3 linked regions of the Homo sapiens genome follow. The protein of the gene in region 3 interacts with the protein of the main gene of each other region in a pairwise test. Each region holds a gene or a part of one and is shown on either strand. Other genes may lie near its edges.

Region 1 (7,209 bases), on a different chromosome or scaffold from region 3:
ACACGTACTAACTCAGTTAAATCTTTTTTTTTTTTTTTTTTTTTTTTGAGATGGAGTCTCGCTCTGTCTCCCCGGCTGGAGTGCAGTGGTGCGATCTCGGCTCACTGCAAGCTCCGCCTCCCGGGTTTTACACCATTCTCCTACCTCAGCCTCCCGAGTAGCTGGGACTACAGGCGTGCACCACCTACGCCCGGCTAATTTTTTTTTTTTTTGGTATTTTTAGTAGAGATGGGGTTTCACCATATTAGCCAGGATGGTCTTGAACTCATGACCTTGTGATCCGCTCACCTCGGCCTCCCAAAGTGCTGGGATTACAGGCATGAGCCACCGCGCCCGGCTCAGTTAAATCTTATACCCAGAGAAGGAGGTAGCTACTATTCTTATCTTCATTTTATAGATGAGGAAATGGAGGCCCAGAGAGGAGTGAAATTCTGAAAGTCACACAGCCTGGAAGTGATAGGGCAGGAATGTGACTGCCTGCCCCAAAGTCCTTGCCTTTCACAACCAGGCTTTGCTGCTCTTGTAGTTTCCAATGTTTACTGTTGTCTTTCAAAAACTCTTCCTGGCATATTGTTAGGGAGAGACATTTTGTCCCTGTCACTCTGCCTCCTTCAATAACAGTAGATCTGTTAATAAGGCTGATAATAACAGTAATATTAGTAATAATAGCAAGAGTAATTAATAATCATTGGTCTTTCTTTTTTTTTTAGACATGAGGTCTTGCTCATCTCTAAAATGAGCAATGCTACTGCAATCCAACCTGGGCAACAGAGCAAGACCCTGCCTCAAAAAAAAAAAAAAAACAAACAAAACCCTAAATAAACCAACAAACTAAAGGCACAGATAATTATAAGCAAGATTTTTCACCTGTGTGAGGAGCACTAGAAAGTCATGAAGAGGAAAGGATAATTCTTTTCCATATGAGACTGTCTTGTACATGGTAGGGTATTTAGTATACTGGCCTCCCATTCTCTAAATGCTCAGGCTGGTCTCGAACTCCTGGGCTCAAGCAATCCTTTGCCTCAGCCTCCTGAGTAGCTGGGATTACAGGTGCATACCACTGTACCTGGCTTTTTTTTTTTTTTTTTTTTTTTGAGACAGAGTCTTGTTCTGTTGCCCAGGCTGGAGTGCAGTGGTGTGATCTCAGCTCACTGTAACCTCTGCCTCGCAGGACAATTCTTGTGCCTCAGCCTCCTGAGTAGCTGGGATTATAGGCGTCCACCACCACGCCTGGCTAATTTTTTGTATTTTTAGTAGAGACAGGGTTTTGCCATGTTGGCCAAGCTGGTTCTGAACCCCTGACCTCAGGTGATCCACCTGTCTCTGCCTCCCAAAGTGCTGGGATTACAGGCGTGAACCATCACACTGGCCTGTACCTGGCTCTTCATTGGTCTTTACTATACAGAGAGTGCTGTGGTAAACACTTTATTCCACCTAAACTCCCGTTTTGATCTCTCATTCCCCTGAGTGACTGACAGCCCCAGAGTCTCATCAATGCACCTTCAATTTCTTTGTCACTTTCTCGTCACTAGTCATGTCCTGCAAACTGGCCTCCTTCTGGTCCACCCCAGGGCCTTTGCACATGCTGTTGTTAGACTGAAACACTCTACTCCCTTCTCAGATTGCTCCTCTGGAAACCTGCCCTGAGACCCTGGGAGCAGTTTCTTGGTCGTATTTCTCAGAATGTCTCAGACCACTTCACTTGCAGTTGTGTGACTGAACTCACAGCATGAGCTTAGAATATAGTAGGCACTTAGTAAATACTAACTGAATGAATGCATAAACCCATAGGAGAAGATTGAAGCGAAAGAATGACCTAGAACAATGGTTTTCAGAAAACTGTTGTAGAACTACGTGGAAACCTAATAACATAATGATTGAGGGGCACTGCAGGCACTTAGAGAATGGTAGGCAGTTATACTAAATACCCTACCATGTACATGACAGTCCCATATGGGAAAGACTTATCTTTTCCTCTTCATGACTTTCTAATGTCCCTCAAAGAGGTGAAAAATCTTGCTTGTAATTACCTGTGCTTTTAGTTTGCTTGTTTGTTTGGGTTTTTTCTTTCTTTCTTTCTTTTTTTTTTTTTTGAGACAAGGACTTGTTCTGTTGCCCAGGTTGGAATGCAATGGCATAATCATAGCTCACTGTAATCTTGAACTCCTGGGCTCAAGCAATCCTCCTGCTTCAGCCTTCCAAGTAGCTAGAACTACAGGCACCTGCCGCCACACCTGGCTAATTAAAAAACTTCTTTTGTAGAGATCGAGGTCTCCTTATGTCGCCCAGGTTGGTCTCGAACTCCTGGCCTCAAGCGATTCTCCTTCCTCAGCCTCCCAATGCACTGGGATTACAGGTGGGAGCCACTGCACCTGATCCTGTGCTTTTAGTTTAAACCTAACTCTTTTACATAAGAACACAACATATTTTTTGTATGTTTTTAATATACATTGCATTTTCCTGCAATGCAACTATTAAATAAATGGAAGAAAGACTAGACTCTTTTGTATATGGAACTTTGCCAAGAGGTGTTCAACATTGTGGAACATCTTGACACTGCTGGCAACTCCCCTCATGTGGTTTGAATTGTCCACACAACCCAGAGTTAGCCATCATTTGTGCCTGTCACTTCATGGTGATTTTGTGTATGGTGTACATATCAGAATTACTTCACTATGTCCTCCAGAGTCTCATTACTCAAAATGTGGTCCCTGGACCAGTAGTATCAGCCTCATCTGGGAGCTCGTTGCAAATGCAGAATCTCAGGCTCCACTGAGTCCTTAGCCCTACGGAATTACAATTTGTGTTTTAACAAGATCCCTGGGGATTCACATACACATTAGATTTTGAGAAGTGCTGGCCTACCTCATATGTCATACAACAGGATCACTTAAACCCATCATTAAAAAAATCAATATTATGCCCTGATGGTAATATAAAAGAGGACTAAGAGCAGGTTAATTTGTAATAGGACAATGTCTACGATGTCTATTTTAATGGGTAAGTTGTTGAGTCCCTATATGCAGAATCACTATAGCATCTGCTAGAAAGTATTACAAAATGTCGTTATGAAAAAGAGGATGCTGGTTCTGAATGGATAAGTTGCTGGCCTGGAAGATGCCTCAAAAGCTTTCTAACATTTTTATTTATTTTTAAAAGGTGAGGTCTCACTATGTTGCGCAGGCTGGTCTTGAACTCCGGGGCTCAAGTGGATCCTCCCACCTTGGCCTCCCAAAGTGCTGGGACTACAGGCATGAGCCACCACATCCCGCTGCATCCAAAGCTTTGAAACTCTGCTCTCCCTTCAATTCTAACGGCCCAAAGTGCCTTTTCTTTTTCTTTATTTTTTATTTTATTTTTTGAGACAAAGCCTTGCTCTGTCGCCCAGGCTGAAGTGCAGTGGTGCAATCATAGCTCATCATAGCCTAGACATCCTGGGCTCCAGTGACCCTCCTGCCTCAGCCTCCCAAGTAGTTGGGACTGCAGGTGCATGCCACCACATCTGTTTAATTTTTTATATTTTATAGAGATGGGGTCTGCCTCTATTGCCCAGACTGGTCTCCAACTCCTGGTATCAAGTGATCCTCCCACCTTGGCCTCCCAACAGAGTGGCTTTTCAAACTTCCAAAGAATAGCATTAGGTAAATAGAGTTGGCTGAAAATGGCCAAAAATGCTCTAAATTTACCGAGCACTTATTATGTGTCAGCTGCTCTTCCAGGCCCTTTGCATACATTACCTCATTCAATCCTGGCAATGACCCAATTAGATCCCACTATTTCCATTGTGTGAGGCCCAGAGATATGAAGTCACTTTGCAAAAGTCACACAGCAAGAACACAGAAGACTATATAATTCTGGACGACAGTGGGGCTTCTCTTAATAGTTTCCCTGAAATGCTCAAGGCCTCTGGTGCCAGAGAGCCTGGGTTCAAGGACACTGGTTAGAGGAATGACCTTGAGGAGCTCACTCAATCTCTCAGTTTCCCCATCTGTGAAGCCTCTAATCCGAACACTTTGGGAGACTGAGGTGGGATGATTGCTTGAGGCCAGGAGTTGGGGACCAGCCTGGGCAACAGAGCCAGGCCTCATTTCTACTAAAGGTAAAAAAATTAGGCTGAGTGTGGTGGCTCAACCCTGTAGTCCCAGCACTTTAGGGAGGCTAAGGCAGGCGGAATGCTTGAGTTCAGGAGTTTGAGACCAGCCTGGGAAACACAGTGAAACCCTGTCTCTACAAAACACTGTCTCTACAAAAATTAGCCAGGCATGTGGCACATGTCTGTGGTCCCAGCTACTTGTGAGGCTGAGGCGGATGGCTTGAGCCCGGGAGGTAGAGGCTGCACTGAGCTATGACTGCCACTGCACTCCAGCCTGGGCAACAGGCGAGACCCTGTGTCAAAAAAACAAAAACATACAGCATTTTTTTTTTTTTGAGACAGAGTCTTGCTCTGTTGCCCAGGCTGGAGTGTGATGGCACGATCTCAGCTCACTGCAACCTACCTCCACCTCCCAGGTTCAACTGATTCTCCCGCCTCAGCCTCCTGAGTAGTGGGAATACAGGTGGGCACCACCACTAATTTTTGTATTTTTAGTAGAGACGGGGTTTCACTATGTTGGCCAGCCTGTTCTCCAACTCCTGACCTCAAGTGATCCGCCCGCCTCGGCCTCTCAAAGTGCTGGGATTACAGGCATGAGCCACTGCTCCTGGCCAAATACAGCACTTTTTTTTTTTTTTTGAGACAGAGTCTCACTCTGTCGCCCAGGCTGGAGTGCGGTGGTGTGATCTCGGCTCATTGCAACCTCCGCCCCCTGTTTTCAGGCGATTCTCCTGCCTCAGCCTCCTGAGTAGCTGGGGCTACAGGCGCCTGCCACCGTGCCCGGCTAATTTTTGTATTTTTATTAGAGGTGGGGTTTCACCATCTTGGCCAGGCTGGTCTTGAACTCCTGACCTCGTGATCCATCCGCCTCGGCCTCCCAAAGTGCTGGGATTACAGGCGTGAGCCACTGCGCCTGGCCAAATACAGCATTTTATAATATATTTTTATAAACAAATACACAGCACGTGCTACTTTGGCTGTTGTCATTATTAATGTTACCGTCATTCTGCGGATTCGAGGTCACCTCCACTTACTTCCTCCTCCGATGCCTCCGCTCCTTGTCCTCCCTCCGCGCGTCCCCCTCGTACGTGGCTGGAGCGCCATGCCGGTGCCTTCTCCTGCGCTCGCCCCCGTCGGGGCCCTCGCCCTCGCCCTCGCCGCCCCGGGCCGGCCGGCTGCCCTCGCGGTGCCGCGCCCTCCGCTCCGCCTTGTCCTCCGGACCCTCCTCCCCGGGCCTGCGGTGCGCGCGATGACGTCGATGCTCCCCGTCCGCGCCCGTGCGCGGGGACCCGCTGCGGCTCTCCCTGCTGCCCCCCTGCCGGTGCACGTGCCTCCGGTGGGGGTCCCCGGCCTTGCCTCGCTCGGCCTCGCCCTCCCAGAACCCGGGTTGCTCCAGGCTGCCCTCCCGGGCGTGGTGGTCCGACTCGCGGCCGTAGGGTCCCTCCCGGCTCAGCTCGGCCTCCTGGCTTCCCGCCCAGGGCCTCCGTGCGTCCAGGCCCGCCGAGCCGCTGGGGTCCCGGGCCCGATCGTGGTAGCGGGCCTGTTTCCTGAGGAAGTCCTCGGCGCGCTGCTGGCCGAGGCGCTGGTCCACGGTGGGCTCGGCCGCCCGGCTCTTGTTGGTGTTGTTGTTGCGGTTCTCCTGCGGGTCCACCACCAGCGGCCGGTCCAAGTGCGTCTTCATGTCTGGCCGCAGGTGCCGCGTGTAGGCAGCCTTCCAGCGCTCGTCCGGGTCCATTTCGTTATACAGGGCCTCCCGGCTGGCCAGCAAGTTCTGCTTTCGCATCTCACTGGTCCGCTGCTCCCACACGGACTTGGCTGGCTTTTGATTCTTCTGTTGCTCTTTCCTGCAGTGGCATGGTCACAGGACTTAGAGCATTGCTAGGCACTGTAGCTTGGATGGATGACCCAGGCGAACCAACCCACATCTCAGCCTCCCACTCCTGCTCTCCACCCTCTACTCCCCACTGAATGCTAGGAGTCTGTGAGCATCTGAGTCAGGTCCCAGCCTCCTCTGCTCAAGAACCCTCCATGGCTCCCACCTGGCTAGGGGCAAAAGCCCAAGTCCTCCCCCCTGACCCAGAAGGCCCTGTGTAATCTGCTTGTCACCTCCTTGCCTTCACCTCCTCACACTTACTATTCGATTCTAGTCACACAGGCCTCCTTCACATCAGGCATGTTCCTGCCTCAGGGCCATTGCCTATGCTGTTCCCTCTGCCTGGGATGCCCTTCCCCAGGCCCCCCAGTGGCTCCTCCCTCACCTCCTTCAGGCCATGTAACCTTCTAGGTGAGCAGTCCCCAACCTTTTTGGCACCAGGGGCCAGTTTTGTGGAAGACAGTTTTTCCACAGACCTAGGTGTGGGGGGTGGTTTTGGGATGAAACTGTTTCACCTGAGATCATCAGGCATTCGATTCTTAAAAGGAGCACGCAACCTAGATCCCTCAGATGCACCGTTCACAATAGTGTTTGTGTTCCTATGAGAATCTAATGCTGCCTGCTGATCTGACGGCAGGTGGAGCTCAGGCGGTAATGCTTGCTTGCTCACTGTTCACCTCCTGCTGTGCAGCCCCGTTCCTAATAGGCCTCGGCCTGGTACCAGTCCACAGCCCCGGGACTGGGGACCCCTATTCTAGGTGATGCCTTCCCTGACAACTTCGTTTAAAATCACAACTCTCTTCACTCCCAGCATTTGCTATTTCCCTCCCCTACTTTCTCTGTAGTTCCATCGCCTTCTAACACAATATATAATTTACTTATTTATCTAATTTATTGACTCCTTCCCTTGCTAGAATGGCTACACACAGGTGGGATTTTTTTTTTCCTCCTTGTTAATGCTGTATCCCCAGAAGTTAGAACAGTGCTGGGTACATAACAGCTGCTAACCAAATATTTATTGAGTGAAAGTGGGTGGAAGGACAAGAAGTGTCTCTTCCTAAAGCTCAGTTCTGTCAAGGACCACCCCCACTGCTTCCCAAATCTGTGCCTGGGATAGTGTGGACGTTCAGGAGCCAGGGTAGCATCCCAGGGATTAGGGGCACTTACACAGCTATAGACATGTTGGCCGCGGACAGAGGACTCACTTCTGCCACCTCCTTGGCTTTCTGTAGGGCAAGTTTCT
Region 2 (8,185 bases), on a different chromosome or scaffold from region 3:
CAGGGTCTCATTTTGTCACCCAGACTGGAGTGCAGTGGCACGATCTTGGCTCAATGTAGCCTCAACCTCCTGAGCTCAAGCGATCCTTCCGCCTCAACCCTCCAAGTAGCTGGAACTATGGGCATACAACACCACACCTATCTAATTTATTTATTTATTTTTTTAGGGATGGGGTCTCACTATGTTGCCCAGGGTGGTCTTACACTCCTGGGCTCAAGTGATCCACCTGCCCTGGCTTCCCAAAGCGCTGGGTTTACAGGTGTGAGCCACTCTGCCCTGCCTCTTTTCACTTTAACGTACTAATTTTTTCTTGCTCTGAGAGTCACTGACAGAGCTAAGCAATCGTATCTAGTAGGAAAGGGAATATAGGGAAAGCAGGAAACCAGCCTGAGTTAATTAATTGTTGAAGAATAAAGAAAACAGATGAAGGAGAAAAGAAAATAAGGAACACTAGGTAAGGAATGGTTGACTTATCCATTCAAGAAACATTAAGCAGTGGCTTTGTAGGAGGCGCTTGATAAATGGTGGGAATGCAGATGTGAGTATCACTGACATGGTTCCTATCCTCATAAAATTGGAAGTTCAGCATGGAAGAAAGACATTAAACAAACACACAAATTATATAGTTATAACTGTTACAAATGACAAACAGAAAAATCATAATATGGCCATGACTGTTAAAAAAAAAAAAAAAGAAGAAGAACAAGACCAAGAAAAAGATAATCAGTCTGGTATGAGGGCTCACACCTGTAATCCCAGCACTTTGGGAGGCTGAGGTGGGCAGATCACTTGAGGTCAGGAGTTCGAGACCAGGCTGGCCAACATGGTGAAACCTCGTCTCTATGAAAATAAAAAAATTAGCGAGGCATGGTGGCACACCTGTAATCCCAGCGACTTGGAAGGCTGAGGCAGGAGAGGGAGGCAGAGGTTGCAGTGAGCCAAGATCACGCCACTGCACTCCAGCCTGGGTGACAGAGCAAGACTCCGTCTCCAAAAAAAAAAAAAAAAAGAAAAAGAAAAAAAAAGAAAATCACAGGATGCAATAAGCACACGCCAGCGCATGTTCTTCATACCACAGAATGTAACCCATTTGTGGTGGTCCTGTAGTTTTTACCTTTTGATTAGTTCTTCAGGGGTGAGCTCAGTAAATCATCCCTTTCCACATTTCCTAAACCCACCTCTCAGGGAAGGCAATTCTCTGAATTGCCTTCCCTGAAGGCAATTCAATGAAGGTTCTATGCCTGTGTTTCGGTTTATCATATTTATTTTACAGGTTGGAAACTGTACACTTATCTTTCTCCCACTGGTCTTTGAGCTCCGTAAAGTTAGGGCCTCTGACATTTGTCTTAGTGCCCAGTATTTGCCACTCATTCACCGAGAAACATTTACAGAATGCCTAAATTCCAGGTACCAGGCTGCTGGGCACTGAATTCACTCATTTGCCCATCTACTCATTTATATCACAGCACCCAGTACATAACAGTCATTCAACATGAACTAAGATGTTGCACCCGAAGAAAATCACTAGTCAGTGCCCTTGGAGGGGAGAAGAAAAAGGACTAATAGACCTCTGCATACACCCAAAGGACATTTTACCTAATTTTAAATCTCCTTTACTCCCAAATGTAGACATGTAGGTCTACATTCTCTCAGACAGATGAACTTTGGAATCCATCTTCCCACATCACCAAAAAGTTTCTGATATTAAAACGTGTTATCATTTTTTCTGAATTGACAATGAAACAGTACTGATACTCCCTGCAGGAAATTTTGCTTACCAAAGCTGCAATGGTGTTGAGACTGATATACCAACAATTTCCCTTCCTGTGTCCAAAAGATCCAGCAAACCTCAGTTTCCAATGACAGGCAGTGAGATGTCACATTTCTAGGTAGGACCCTTCTAATCAACATTACACAGATTGAAACTGAGCTTCTCTTATCAGTTAGGAGATCTCAGAAGTTTGGTAGTTCTAAGCAACTTCAGAGGGGCTAGGAAGTCACTCAATCAGTTTGATTATAAAAGACATACAAGCTTCTTGAACTTCAGAAGAAATTAACATCAAAACACCATATCAGACTCCCAAATGACTTACTTTCTCCTGAAAGTAGTTTGCTGACAAGTTATAAATTTCCACAGTGCCATCTGTTCGTGAAACAGCCAATCTGTTTGACTGGTTATTGTAAGCCACACAGCGGATTCCTGATGGAACATAATTAAAGAAACGTACTCGATGGACCTTAAATTCACCCATTCCTAGGGGGCGAAAAGAGAGTCATTATTGCTATATGTTAACTGCAGTATGTCACATATAGTATTCAGTTCCTTAATATCACTGTTCTGGCTGGAAGGCTCCAACAACATCTCCCTGAAGTTCATTTCCAAATGGCTGCTAACAATGCCCCCCACAAGAATTACTCAATCTTCAAAAGCTCAGAATGGCTTGAATAATAAGGAGGCTTCAGCAAAAAATCAAAAAGGGTCCTACTCCATAGCTCCAGAGTTCCTATCTCGGGGCGCCTAGGAATCCGCATTTTAGCAAGCATCTCTCCTCAACTCTATTGCTAAGTTTGCAAACAACAGACCTAAACTGAGGTAGTGACAGTGAGGCTGATGGGGCAGGCAGAACCGAGCTCCTCTTGAGGAAGAAACGACAGGGTTTGACTTAATCTGGCTGCCTGGTCTGACGTCTGTCACTTACCCTACCCCGTCCCCCCGACGCCCGCCAACATATATACTGGCCGAGAGTAGAGACCAGGTCTTGTTCGCCCCTCACTGGCCTAGCTTCAAGGTTAGGAACCCGCAGACAGAGCAAGCGCGTTCGGTCGGGCCGGGGCGTCTGAGGCGCGCGCGGTCTTCGCCTCCCCTTCCCTCTCCCCGAGTCTACAGAGTAGCCCCCACCCCGCCTCGGGACAAGGAGACCCTCGGGACAAGGAGCTCAGCCGGACGCCGACCCTGGGCCGGCCACCTTGTAAGACCCCCCCAGCTCTCGCAGCCGCTTCCCACGCCCCTTCCCCAACTCACCAGCGGCCCCACGCTCCCCTTCCCGGTGCTCGCCTCTCTCCGCCCCGGCCCCACGTGCGCGCGCGCTCTCAGGCTCTGCCCCGGAAGTGCTCCTGGCGCATAGTCGGAAGTGCGCAGGCAGTGCTCGCGGCGGCGGCGACGGCGGCGGGAGGTTCGGTTGTCGCCCGTTGGCCGCGCGGCGCCGCGCTCGGCGGCCGCCATTGCAGGTCAGGCCGCGGGCGGGGGGCACGGGAGGCTGCGGGGAGCGAGGGCCGAGCCGGGATTGGGGGCGAGGGCGCGAGGGAGCGGGAAGCTAGGGAGCCGGGGCCGGGCGGGGCGCGCGGCTCGGAGAGAAGAATGGCGAGCCGAGGGGCGGGGAGCGCGGGCGGGGGAGGGGTGGCCGGGAAGGGGGAGGGCGGCGGGAGGGCGGCGCGGAGGTGGGGGCAAGCCCGGAGGGGCCTCCGGGGTGGGAGGGCCAGGAGTGTGGGGGAAGGGAGCGGTGTGGAGACGGAAGGCGGAGGGAAGGAAGGGAGCGAGCGGGGCGGAGCGGGAGAAGGGCGGAAAGGGTGGCCGAGCGCGGGCGGAGGACGGAGAAGGGGGCGGCGAGGGCCGGAATCTCGAGGTACGTGCGGGAAGGGGCTCTTCCCGGGGTTGGGAGGGAGCCCAGCCCGCTATGCTTGCGGGAGCGGAGTAGAACTGGAACCTAGGAAGTAGCGGGAAGAGCAGAAAGGGGAGTTCGGGGTGGGGGTTAGGACCGTGAGGTTTTGTTCCAGGTAACATTTGTAATCGTGGAGGGGGGAGGCTTCTGGGAGAGGTAATTGGAAGGGTGGTTGGAGAGTCATTCCAGGTTCTTTTGTGGGAGGGAAGCCGAGAGACGAGTGGGGTGGGGTCCTGGAGGAGTGGAGTACTTGAGAACCGGGAACAATTTGGAGAACGAGGGTGGTAGAGAAAGGACGTTTAAAGAGTAATCTTTGGGAAGAGGGTGAACGGTTTGGAAGACCACTCCAGTGGGTGGTGTGGAGGAAGGCGGTTTAAAGAATAGTTTCCCTGGGAGGCAGGAAAAGGGGTTAAAACAGCTTGTAATTTGGAGGGGGGTGGAGAAGAGGGGGGAAGCGGATTGAGAAGTCCCAGAAAGTGGGTGGGACTAGAAATAGGAAGTGTTTGTAGCTCTAGCAGAAAGGGTGGGAGGGGGCCGAGAGGGAGTGGGTGGAGAAGATGGGGGTGGGTGGGAGGAAGAGCACAGAGGGAGACTCTACGCCGGGCTAGAAAGGAAAGGGTTTGGGGGAGTACAGGGGGCCGTACCATTAAGAGGAGGACAGGCTAAGATGGGGCTGCAGAGTAGCAGAAGATGGAGAAAACTGCAGTAACTCAGATCGACTGAAGCCATCTTTTCCACCCATTGCTACAAATACCAGTAATTGATTCCCTCCAACGTGGGAATCCTAAAATGTGATGGGAAGTATCACGTGTATGCATAGCATCCACACACGTTTTTGAACACACTTCACTAATGTAAAGTTTGGAAGCATTCAATTCCACCAACCCTCCATAAGCCCCTTTTTGGAGGGGAGCAAGATTCTCATTTGGAAACAGGATTTTAGACTTAGTAACATAAGCCTTTCAAGAGACAAGATCCCCTTCAAAAGTATAGACCTGTCCCCTTCAGTTACAAAACCACGATAACACTACAAATAAAAATAATCTGTATTCGGTTGTATGTAAAACGTTCTGAGTTGTTCACTTGGTAGAAAGGCACATAGAGACATAGTCATCATATTTAGAGAAATTACCTTCCAGAACTTAATCCCTGAAGCAGTTTGGTGAACCACAACTGCCATGTTTGAATTCTACTGTTATGAAAACTTGATTTTATTCTGATGACCTGCTGCTTTCGTAGAATGCTTTAGTCCGTTATAAACATTAATATGCTAACACAGTGTAGTATTAAGACATTCTATTTGATGAATACTAAGAAAATGCCACCTTTCTCTGGGAAATCGATAGCTTGACCCTGAAGGCTTACCATGTGTCAGACAATGTGCTAAAAGCTTTACATTCATTACTCGTTCTTGCAACAGCCTTTCAAAATAGGTGTTTATGCCCAGTGTATTGTTAGGAAAACACGTGAGGTTAAACTACCCACTGTCACATATGGGATAGGTGGCAAAATCACAGAATCCAGGTCTGTATGACAAGTGAGTGCTTCACTATATTCGTAAACAAAGTATCCACCCTGGGATCAAAAAACAAAAGCTCAATAAATGCCAACTGTTGGCCTAGCAAAAAATAGAAAATTGTGAATATTTACACTCTGAAATAATTGATTTCACCCCAGTTTAGAAAAGAATGTTTAAGGGTTGAGAATTTAAAGGCTTGGTTTCCTGTTTGAAAAAAAAACAAAATTTCTAAAACGTTGTTTAGCTTTATTAAAATTTAGTTATTTGTATTGAGGTTAAACCGTTGAGTCAAAGCCTCTTTTTTGCTATAAGCCATATGTTCGGTTTAATTGGATACATATCACACTTTCTTCTGCCACATTTTATTTTGAAGGATTATGAGGATCATTGCTCAGGCTGTTCTGTTCTCTGTAAGACAGTAATCTTTTAACAATTTAATATTTAACAATTCAGAGACCAGAGGGTAAGAATTAAATTCTGTGGAAGATTAAAATGAATACTTGACAAAGAATGTCCTCTATTCTCTTGACTTTCACATTCAGGAGCAGAGGGTAAAGCTTTGCGTCCTAGAGGTGGCATTGAGTAGATTTTTCTAAAAGTTTCAAAAACTGAAACATCTCAATTGGGTATGATAAAAAGCAAGCTGCTTCTTTGTTTTTAGCTGCCTACCCCACAGATATAATACTTTGGTGGCAAGTTACAAGGTCTTTCCATAGGTTACTTTGCCATTTTGTAAGAGATGCTGTGAGAACGAGGCTAATATTTGTAAAGCAAGGGAAGTTATCATACAGAGGTGCTTTACAGGAGGGGGCTGTGTGAGGAGAACTGCAAGAGGGGCCAGATTGTGGAGGGGTTAGGGTTCATATCCCAGCTCTCCACTTAAGTAGCTGTGTGACCAGTTAACATTTAGCTCCTCTAAGCCTGTTTCCTCATTTGTGAAATGGGAGTGAGAAGACCTTGCTAAAAGCATAGGGTGTCAGGGTGAAATAAGAGGATACAGATAAGTGAACGAGGCTAGCTTGTGAGAAATGAAGCCTTTTGTATTATAAAAATAATGTTCTGCCTGGACTTTACTTTTCTTCCTTTTTTTTTTTTTTTTTTTTTGTGACGGAGTCTCGCTCTGTTGCCTAGGCTGGAGTGCAGTGGCGTGATGTCGGCTCACTGCAACCTCTGCCTCCTGGGTTCACGCCATTCTCCTGCCTCAGCCTCCTGAGTAGCTAGGACTACAGGCACCTGCCACCACGCCCGGCTAATTTTTTGTATTTTTACTGGAGAGGGGGTTTCACTGTGTTATCCAGGATGATCTCGATCTCCTGACCTCGTGATCTGCCCGCCTCGGCCTCCCAAAGTGCTGGGATTACAGGTGTGAGCCACCGCACCCGGCCTCTGCCTGGGCTTTTCTTAAGAAATCATGGTGGTGCTTTGATTTGCCAGTTTTTTTTTTGTTTTGTTTCAGTTTGTCTGTTTTTTGAGATGGAATCTTGCTCTGTCACCCAGGCTAGAGTGCAGTGGCACAGTCTCGGCTCACTGTAACTACCGCCTCCCAGGATCAAGCGATTTTCCTGCCTCAGCCTCCTGAGTAGCTGGGATTACAGGTGAGCGCCACCATGCCTGGCTAATTTTTGTATTTTTCGTAGAAACTGGGTTTCACCATGTTGGTCAAGCTGATTTCGAACTCATGACTTCATGATCTACCCGCCTTGGGCTCCCAAAGTGCTGGGATTATAGACGTGAGCCACCGTGCCTGGCGGGTTTTTTATAATAATAGTTACTAATTTCAAAAGAGAGAGAGAAGCCAAATGCTGGTTAAATAAGGTATATTCTAGAGTGGTCTGATTACAGCCAAAGCTTTTTAGTTTTGGGTAGGGTTCCCATTGTGGGTCAGGATTGATTCTTTGAATGCTGGTGCCTTTTTGAGGGGAAAAAAGTTTCCTTTACTGAGATAAAGTCGTTTGACTAACTTAGGAATACAGAATTTATGTATTGTTTAGTTCATTTAGCTGCGTGAAGGCCCATAAAGATCAAGTAGAAAACTTTTTTCCCTCCTCATGAGATTGGGGACAGGATACATAATTTATTGCAGGGAAAGGTTTGGTTTTCTTTATACCTTCTTATCTTTCCAAGGCTACACATGAGTTGTGGCCTGTGAGTCTGATACCACACTGTAATATAATGAATTTAAATCTTTTTGAAAAGCTACATCACAGAAGTCTCTCCCTGGCTCTGCAGTTAACCTTGTCAACCTAGAATTATTGTTCCTAACGAAAGACATGTTAGTCCTAGCCAAATCTGGGGTTGAACTCTGCTCTTAAGAGATAGTTAGCCGGGCGCTGTGGTTCACGCCTGTAATCCTGGCACTTTGGGAGGCCGAGGCGGGTGGATCATGAGGTCAGGAGTTCAAGACCAGCCTGACTAATAGGGTGAAACCCCATCTCTACTAAAAATACAAAAATCAGCAAGGCGCGGTGGCAGGTGCCTGTAATTCCAGTTACTCGGGAGGCTGAGGCAGGAGAATCCCCTGATCCTGGGCAGCGGAGGTTGCAGTGAGCCGAGATTGCGCCACTGCACTCCAGCCTGAGTGACAGAGTGAGACTCTGTCTCAAAAAAAGAAGAAAGAGAAATTTGGCCGGGCACGGTGGTTCACGCCTGTAATCCCAACACTTTGGAAGGCCAAGGTGGGCAGATCACTTGAGGTCAGGAGTTCGAGACTAGCCTGGCCAAGATGGTGAAACCCTGTCTCTACTAAAAATACAAAAAGTTGCCGGGTGTGGTGGCGGGCGCCTGTAGTCCCAGCTACTTGGGAGGCTGAGGCAGGAGAATCACTTGAACCTGGGAGACAGAGGTTGCAATGAGCTGAGATCGAGCCACTGCACTCCAGCCTGGGCAACAGAGGGAGACACTGTCTCACAAAAAAAAAAAAAAAAAAAAAAAAGTTGCCGGGAGAGCTCTTCCACTGACTCTCTTTTAGTTTCTTGACTTCATGTATAGCGTATTCATCAAATCGTGC
Region 3 (7,209 bases):
AATGTGATAATTCAAGCAAAGTGAACTTCTTGATGTGTTTTCGGGTCACATTAACTTTGCCATAGAAACTGGTAGCTGTCTTGCCAATGGGGGCAAAGTGCAAAATGTTTGGGTAAGTCAGTGAAAATCCATCATCACATCAGCACCAGTGGAGAAACTGCTCAGAAGGGGCCAGCAGATAAATCAGTTGCGGGACTTGTGTTCGCCACTGTCACGTTTTTTTTTTTTTTTAATTTCAAAAATTTTTCAAAAAGCAAATAAAAATAAATGGGTGTATTTTTCAAGAACCATTTGGTTCTTTCATAGATTTACAATAAAATATCTGAACTGCTTAAGATACTCAACAAGACTCCAAAGGGCAAAAATACCCTCTACCCTTAAATACAAGAAAAAAATAAAGCTATACAAACTGATTTGGCCTAAAAAAATCACTTAAGTGCATTATTTTCTTAAGCCATTAAGTTCTCCATATTTAATAGGTTAAAACGAAAAAAGAAATAAAAGAACAACTGCCAATCATTTACCTGTGTTATAGCAACAGCTTTTCCTGCCATAGAACTTCTCAGAATTTCTTCTGACTCAGGGTAGTCCACAGACATCTGATGACACGGGGACCTGGAAGTGTCTACAGACGGAATTGTGTCGTTTTCATCTCTCGCAGCACGCTGCCTGGCCTTCCCCGGAGAGAGTGTCTTCCTATTGTAGTCAGACTGTGCTGTGCTCAGGACAGTCATTCTGGTGAGCAGCGCCCTGGGCAGAACGTCCATTGGGTCCGTGTGTACCCCAGAAAAGCAATCGGTGATCCTGACATCCTCGTCAGTACTCACAGGGTCCTGAAGGCTACTTCTAGATGGAAGGTGCTGCGGGCTAGCTGTGACTGAGGGTGTGGCTGACAGGACTGATTCAGCCTGGCTGTCCTCATCATCGTCTTCATTTTCATTGTCATCCTCATCTGGGCCATCAGATTCTTCAAGATCATATCCAGATCGCTCATAACTGAATCTCTGTTTTTCATCTAATAAAAACAACCAAGAGGTATGTGATGGAATGCTTTCCAAGTGCACAAGTGCTATTTTAAAAATTTTTTATACGTTTGGCAACTCTGCAAGGATTATAAAAGACAAGGACCCTGCCCACAACGAGCCTCCGCCCTGGCTGAGAAGGCCCTGGGGAAGAATAAGACAGTTGGCCATCAGGATTCAGAGGAGGGCAGCTCTGCGGGAGGGGCCGGGGTCAGGGACGAGGAATGGGAAATGACTCTCAGAAGGGGAATGAGGCAGGTGGAGGGTAATCAAGAAACAAGGAAATGAAGGCCTCTAAGATTGCACTTGAAAATCTTTAAAACACAACTGAACTACATATAAAATTAATAAAGAGTTCAACGCAACTCTTTTCCTGAGCTTTTTCCCTATTTTGTATCTTCCTTTTACTGAACAAATTAAATCAAACACAAAAAACTGATGGCTGTTGGTATCTGTGAGCAACATACATTTTCTTTAGATTTGAATAGTATTATAGATGAGGAAAGAAAAGGACTTTTATCTGAGGAATGTGGGCCCTTTCAAATTACTAGGCCCCAAAGAGGCATTAAGATGAGACAGCAATCACATCCTACTCCACACTTTACTGAAGCTGCTTCCCATTGCCACAGGTAGCTGTGAATTAACCTAGTAATGTGGCACTGGACACTATATCCCACATTCTATAGCTTAACCGTGGACAGGCAGTCACTAATCACTGTTACTTCTGTATATCCATGAGAATTCCTGACAGAACTGTCTAACAGTCTACTCGGTAACACCGGCCCCCCTCCCCTGCCTCCTGTTTTTTTGTTTTTGTTTTTTTCTTTTTGCCTTTAAAAATCTGCCTGTAACAAAGGCCAAGCAAGCAGTTTGGGTGAGTCATCTGGGCAGCTGTCCTTATTCTGGCTCAAGTCAACTCTTTCAACCACACTTTGTGCTTTAGCTTCTTCTTTTGGTTGACACAGGCATGTTTCAATGGTCCTCCGTGTCGTCATATTCACCTAATGTGTAAGCCTTCTTATTTACTCAGAGAGATGCTACAATTTCCTGTCAATTTCTTCTGTGATATGATTCAACCCATTCCTCATAGAAAGGGGGATATTATCTAAAAGTCGTTAGTATCAGCCTCTTAACATCATGTGAAACTGAGTTTAACAAGGAATCTTCAAGATGATCCAGGAAATAGTTTCAAAAATCTCATAAGCTCATGTGGAACTTTTAAACTCTTCACATTTTCAAAATCTTGCAAATTAGAGGCTCTTTCCCACTGAAAGCTTAATAAAATTTAGTTATGGGGGAGGAATGTCACTGAGATATAATAAAGATGACATTAGACAATGTACAGTTTAGCTGTGATACATTCTGCACTTACAGGTATTTTTTTGAAAAGAGACAAACATGTAAACAGAGCAACAAGCAATAGGCTGCCTTTCCCAAATGGCCTAGATATTAATTTTTTACTTTTTCTTTGTATATGACAAAAATGAGTTTAGAGAAAAGCCTTAGAAGACCCATAGAAAAGATTGGAGGGTGATTATTTCTAGGGGATGAAAAGAACTTGACATTTTACATTATTTATCACAAACGTGTGCTACTTTTATAATTAAAAAACTCTAAGATGAAACATGCATTTAGGTTCTGTTAGCATGTGATTTCATAAGGCTTTTGCTTTTAGGGTTCTACTATTATGCTGTAAAATAAGTAATGAAATAAAATAATACCAAAGTATTGACTGGCTCTAGGGGCCTATGCTGGAGACAGAATGTGTGATTTCTGGGTAAATACCCAGACTCCTGCACCTCAGCTACTTCTCTACCTTGCCTATTTTAAAAATTTTTTATAGGTTTGGCAACTCTGCGAGGATTATAAAAGACAAGGACCCTGCCCACAACGAGCCTCCGCCCTGGCTGAGGAGAAGGCCCTGGGGAAGAATAAGACAGTTGGCCATCAGGATTGTTTGGCATTGTAAAATTCGAGTCATCCTCAATTTGACTTGAATTTGCCACATCAGTAGCAAATTAGGTATTTTTTTTTTTTGGAGACGCATCTTCTTTAAAGAAGTAAAATTTGTAAAAAGACTAAAGAGAACTGAATGACTGGGAGAATAAGTTACTGGAGAGAAAGGATGATTTCATTCAAGGCTGCTCTTGCTGTAAAGTCTAACAAGGATGGGACCTGTTTACGTTAAACACACACACAAGCGTGCACGTGCACGCGCGCGCGCACACACACACACACACGTACAGCCTAACTTTAAACTTATTAACTTTTTCCAAACCCATCAATAAGCCGAGGTCCCAGATAATCAACAGCCCAAAATCTAAGGAGACACAAGCTTGTGTCACCGAGGGCAGACACAACAGAACCCCAGTCAGGGGAGTCCCGCTCAAGTATCTGGTTAGAGTCAAGAGTGGGCTGCCAAGATTGTGTGAAACCTCTGAGGGTTACATTCTCACACAGGATCTATGCCATGACCATCACCCAGGTGCTCACAGGAGGGTGGGGTAAGAAGTGTCCGCTGTGTTCCAGATATGGGGGAGAGAAGCAGTAACTCTAGAGGAGTGGCAAGGAACTACACCTGGATCCATCTCCCCTGTCTCCACCAGGAAAACAAAAGACCTATCCTGTGAGGAGAAGGGCGGCACGCACTGTTGTCCTTAGGACACTGCTGAAAACTCACTGCAGTGTGGAAAGGGAACAGGAAAAACATACACATACAACCTGTCTCCTTGGGGAGGGACAGGATTACACAGAAACTCCCACAACACTTGGGGGAGAGGGAGGAGAACTGAGAAGGTCACAGCCCAGAAACCTAAGAAAATGGTGCAGGTACGAGACTGTAACTCAATCGGAACAGAGACAGCACCCCATCCTCCTCCTTGCCCCACAATGTCAAGCTAAGGAGCTTAGCATTACAGGTAACAAAACAGTGCTTGGAGAGAAACAGGAGAACAAGAATGTGCAGAGAGACCCTTTCTGAGGCATAGTGCAAAAGGAAGACCTAAAACTAGAACTGAACAGGTGATGTTCTTGTGATCCAACCCCCAGCCAAAACACAAGGTATCTCTACAGGAACATGAAGCCTTTCCTGCAGTGAGGATAGCTGCCAACAAATCTCTCAAACCTAGCAAACTCCTAACTAGATAAACTCTAACTCCCACACTAAAGGCCTCTAGGAAGGAGAGGCATGCACATTTCTAGGATACAAACAATTTCCATGGGTCTCTACTGTCTTACACAAGATGTACAGCTTTCAACACAAAATTACAAGGCATACAAGAAGGCAAGAAAAAAACATACTTCAGAGAGACAAAGCAATAATCAGAACCACAGTCAGATATGACACCTATGTTAGAAATGACTGAGAATTTAAAATAACTATGGTTCATATTTTGAAGGCTCTAAAGGGAAAGGTAGACAATAACAGATGGGACTTTCAGCTGAGTGCTGACAACTATTAAAAAGAATCCAATGAAAATGGTGCAAATAAAAAATATGGTAACAATATCAAGAAAACTGTTAAATCCAGAATTCTATGCCCATTGAAAATAATTTTCAAAGATGAAAGAGAAATACAGACTTTCTTAGAAAAACAAAAACTGAGGGGATTCATTGCCAGCTGCTTGACCTAGTGGACAATAAATGTTAAACGGAAGTTCCTCAGGCAGAAGGAACACAACATCAGATGGAGGCCCGGATCTACACAAACAAACAAAGAGCAGTGAAAATAGAATAAATGGGGACACAATTTTTTTTCTTATTTTTTAATTGCTCTAAAAGATACCTGAATGTGTAAAACAATGTACTGTGCGTTCACAGTAGATGTAAATGTAAAAAGGTATGGCCACAATAGCATAAAGCACGGAAAGAAGGAGCTGTGTATAAACTGCAGTAAAGTCTATAGGCTCCATGTAAAGCAATGTAATATTATCTGAAGGTAGATAAATACAATTTTTTAAAAGTATAAATAATAAGTCAGTAGAGGAAATAGAACAGAATCATAAAAAACACTCAGTTAATACTAGAGAAGGCATCAAAAGAAAACTGAAACCCAAAAATGAAACAAACAGAAAACGGTTGCCAATATGGTACATTTTAATCCAATTACACAAATAATAACATTAAAAGGGGTGGTCTAACACATAAATTAAAAGACAGAAATGACTAGGACTGAATAAAATGCAAGTCCCATGTATATACTGTATATAAGAAACGCATTTTAAATATTGATATAAAGACATAAGTAGGCTGAAAATAAAAGTTTGGGGAAAGATATACCATAAATCAATAACTAAAATACAGCTGCAGAAACTATACTAATATCAGACGAAGTGGACTTCAGAGCAAAGAATATTATGAAGGATAAACAGGAGCATTACATAATGATATAGGTCATCCCATGAACATAACAATCCTAAGTGTGTACGCAATAGAGCTTCGAAATAAAGGAGCGGAAACTGAAAAAAATAAATCCATAATCAGAGCTGAAGACTTCAATAATCCACTCTCGGTAATTAATGGGACACATAAATAGAAAATCAGGAAGAACATAAAAGACCCGCAAAACACTATCAAGACCTAATAGACATTTATAGAAATGTTCCACTCAACAGCAGAACATACTTTTTATATAAGGGTATGTGGAACATTCACCAGTACATACCATATTCTGAGCTACAAAATAAACCTCAACTATTTAAAATCAGTAGAAACCATACAGAGTGTGTTTTTACATGAAAACAGAATTAAACCAGAAATCAATTAATTGGAGGATATCTGAAAAACCATCAAATTATTGCAGAATTAAAGAACACATGCATGATACTGGTACAAGAACAGACACATAGATCAACGGAACAAAATAGAGAACTCAGAAATAAGACTGCACACCAGCAACCATCTGATCTTCAACAAACAAAAAGAAGTGATGGGGGGAAAGAGTCCCTATTTAATAAACGATGCTGGGAAAACTGGCTAGCCATATGCAGAAAACTGAAACTGGACCCCTTCTTTACAATATATATAAAAATTAACTCAAGATGGATTAAAGACTTAAATGTAAAATGAAAAACTATGAAAACCCTAGAAGAAAATCTAGGCAATATCATTCAGGATACAGTCACGGGCAAAGATTTTATGACGAAAACACCAAAAGGAAAAATTGACAAATGGGGTCTAATTAAACTGCAGAGCTTCTGCACAACAAAAGGAACTATCATCAGAGTGAACACACAACCTACAGAATGGGAGAAAATTTTCACAATCTATCCATCTGACAAAGGTCTAATGTCCAGAGTCTACAAGGAACTTAAACAAATTTATAAGAAAAAAAGTAACCCGATTAAAAAGCAGGCAAAGGACATGAATAGGCACTTCTCAAAAGAACACATACATGCAGCCAACAACATGAAGAAAAGCTCAACACCACTGATCATTAGAGAAATGCAAATCAAAACCACAATGAGATACCATCTCAGGCCAGTCAGAACGGCTATTATTAAAAAGTTAAAAAATAACAGATGCTGGAGAGGTTGCAGAGAAAAAGGAATGCTTTGACACTGCTAGTGGGAGTGTAAATTAGCTCAACCATTGTGGAAGACAGTGTGGTGATTCCTCAAAGACCTAGACCTCTGCAGAAATACCATCTGACCCAGCAATCACATTACTGGGTATATACCCAAAGGAACAGAAATCATTTTACTATAAAGATAACATGCATGCATATGTTCATTCGTAATAGCAAAGACATGGAATCAACCTGAATGCCCATCAATGATAGACTGGATAAGGAAAACGTGGTGCATGTACACCATAGAATACTCTGCAGTCATCAAAAAGAATGAGATCATGTCCTTTGCAGGGACATAGATGGATTTGGAAGCCATAATCCTCAGCAAACTAATGCAGGAAGAGAAAACCAAATACCGCATGTTTTCACTTATAAGTGGGAGCTGAATGACGAAAACACGAGGACACATTGGGGGGAACAATACTCACTGGGGCCTGTCTGTTGGGGGGTGATAGGGGTGTGGGGGAAGAACATCAGGAAGAAATGCTGGGCTTAATACTGAGATGATGAGATGGTTTGTGCAGCAAGCCACCATGGCACACGTTTACCTGTGCGACAAACCTGCACACCCTGCACATGTACCCCTGAACTTAGAAGTTGAAGAAAAAAAAGAACACA

The links. The genes of interacting proteins can lie anywhere in the genome.
Region 1: the proteins of HIVEP1 (region 3) and CACNA1A interact in a two-hybrid assay, tested with the Homo sapiens proteins (one study listed by BioGRID and IntAct).
Region 2: the proteins of HIVEP1 (region 3) and UTP4 interact in binary tests that used the Homo sapiens proteins (3 or more experiments, as listed by UniProt).

What each region holds. Positions count from the first base shown.
Region 1 is NC_000019.10:13,293,417-13,300,625, forward strand, and holds part of CACNA1A (voltage-dependent P/Q-type calcium channel subunit alpha-1A), read right to left. Parts: coding exon 7,134-7,209; intron 5,938-7,133; coding exon 5,128-5,937; intron 1-5,127.
Region 2 is NC_000016.10:69,127,527-69,135,711, reverse strand, and holds the start of UTP4 (U3 small nucleolar RNA-associated protein 4 homolog), read right to left. Parts: upstream 3,064-8,185; 5' UTR 3,023-3,063; intron 2,255-3,022; 5' UTR 2,253-2,254; coding exon 2,094-2,252; intron 1-2,093. UniProt on the Homo sapiens protein: Ribosome biogenesis factor. Involved in nucleolar processing of pre-18S ribosomal RNA. Part of the small subunit (SSU) processome, first precursor of the small eukaryotic ribosomal subunit.
Region 3 is NC_000006.12:12,155,245-12,162,453, reverse strand, and holds part of HIVEP1 (zinc finger protein 40), read right to left. Parts: intron 1,016-7,209; coding exon 525-1,015; intron 1-524.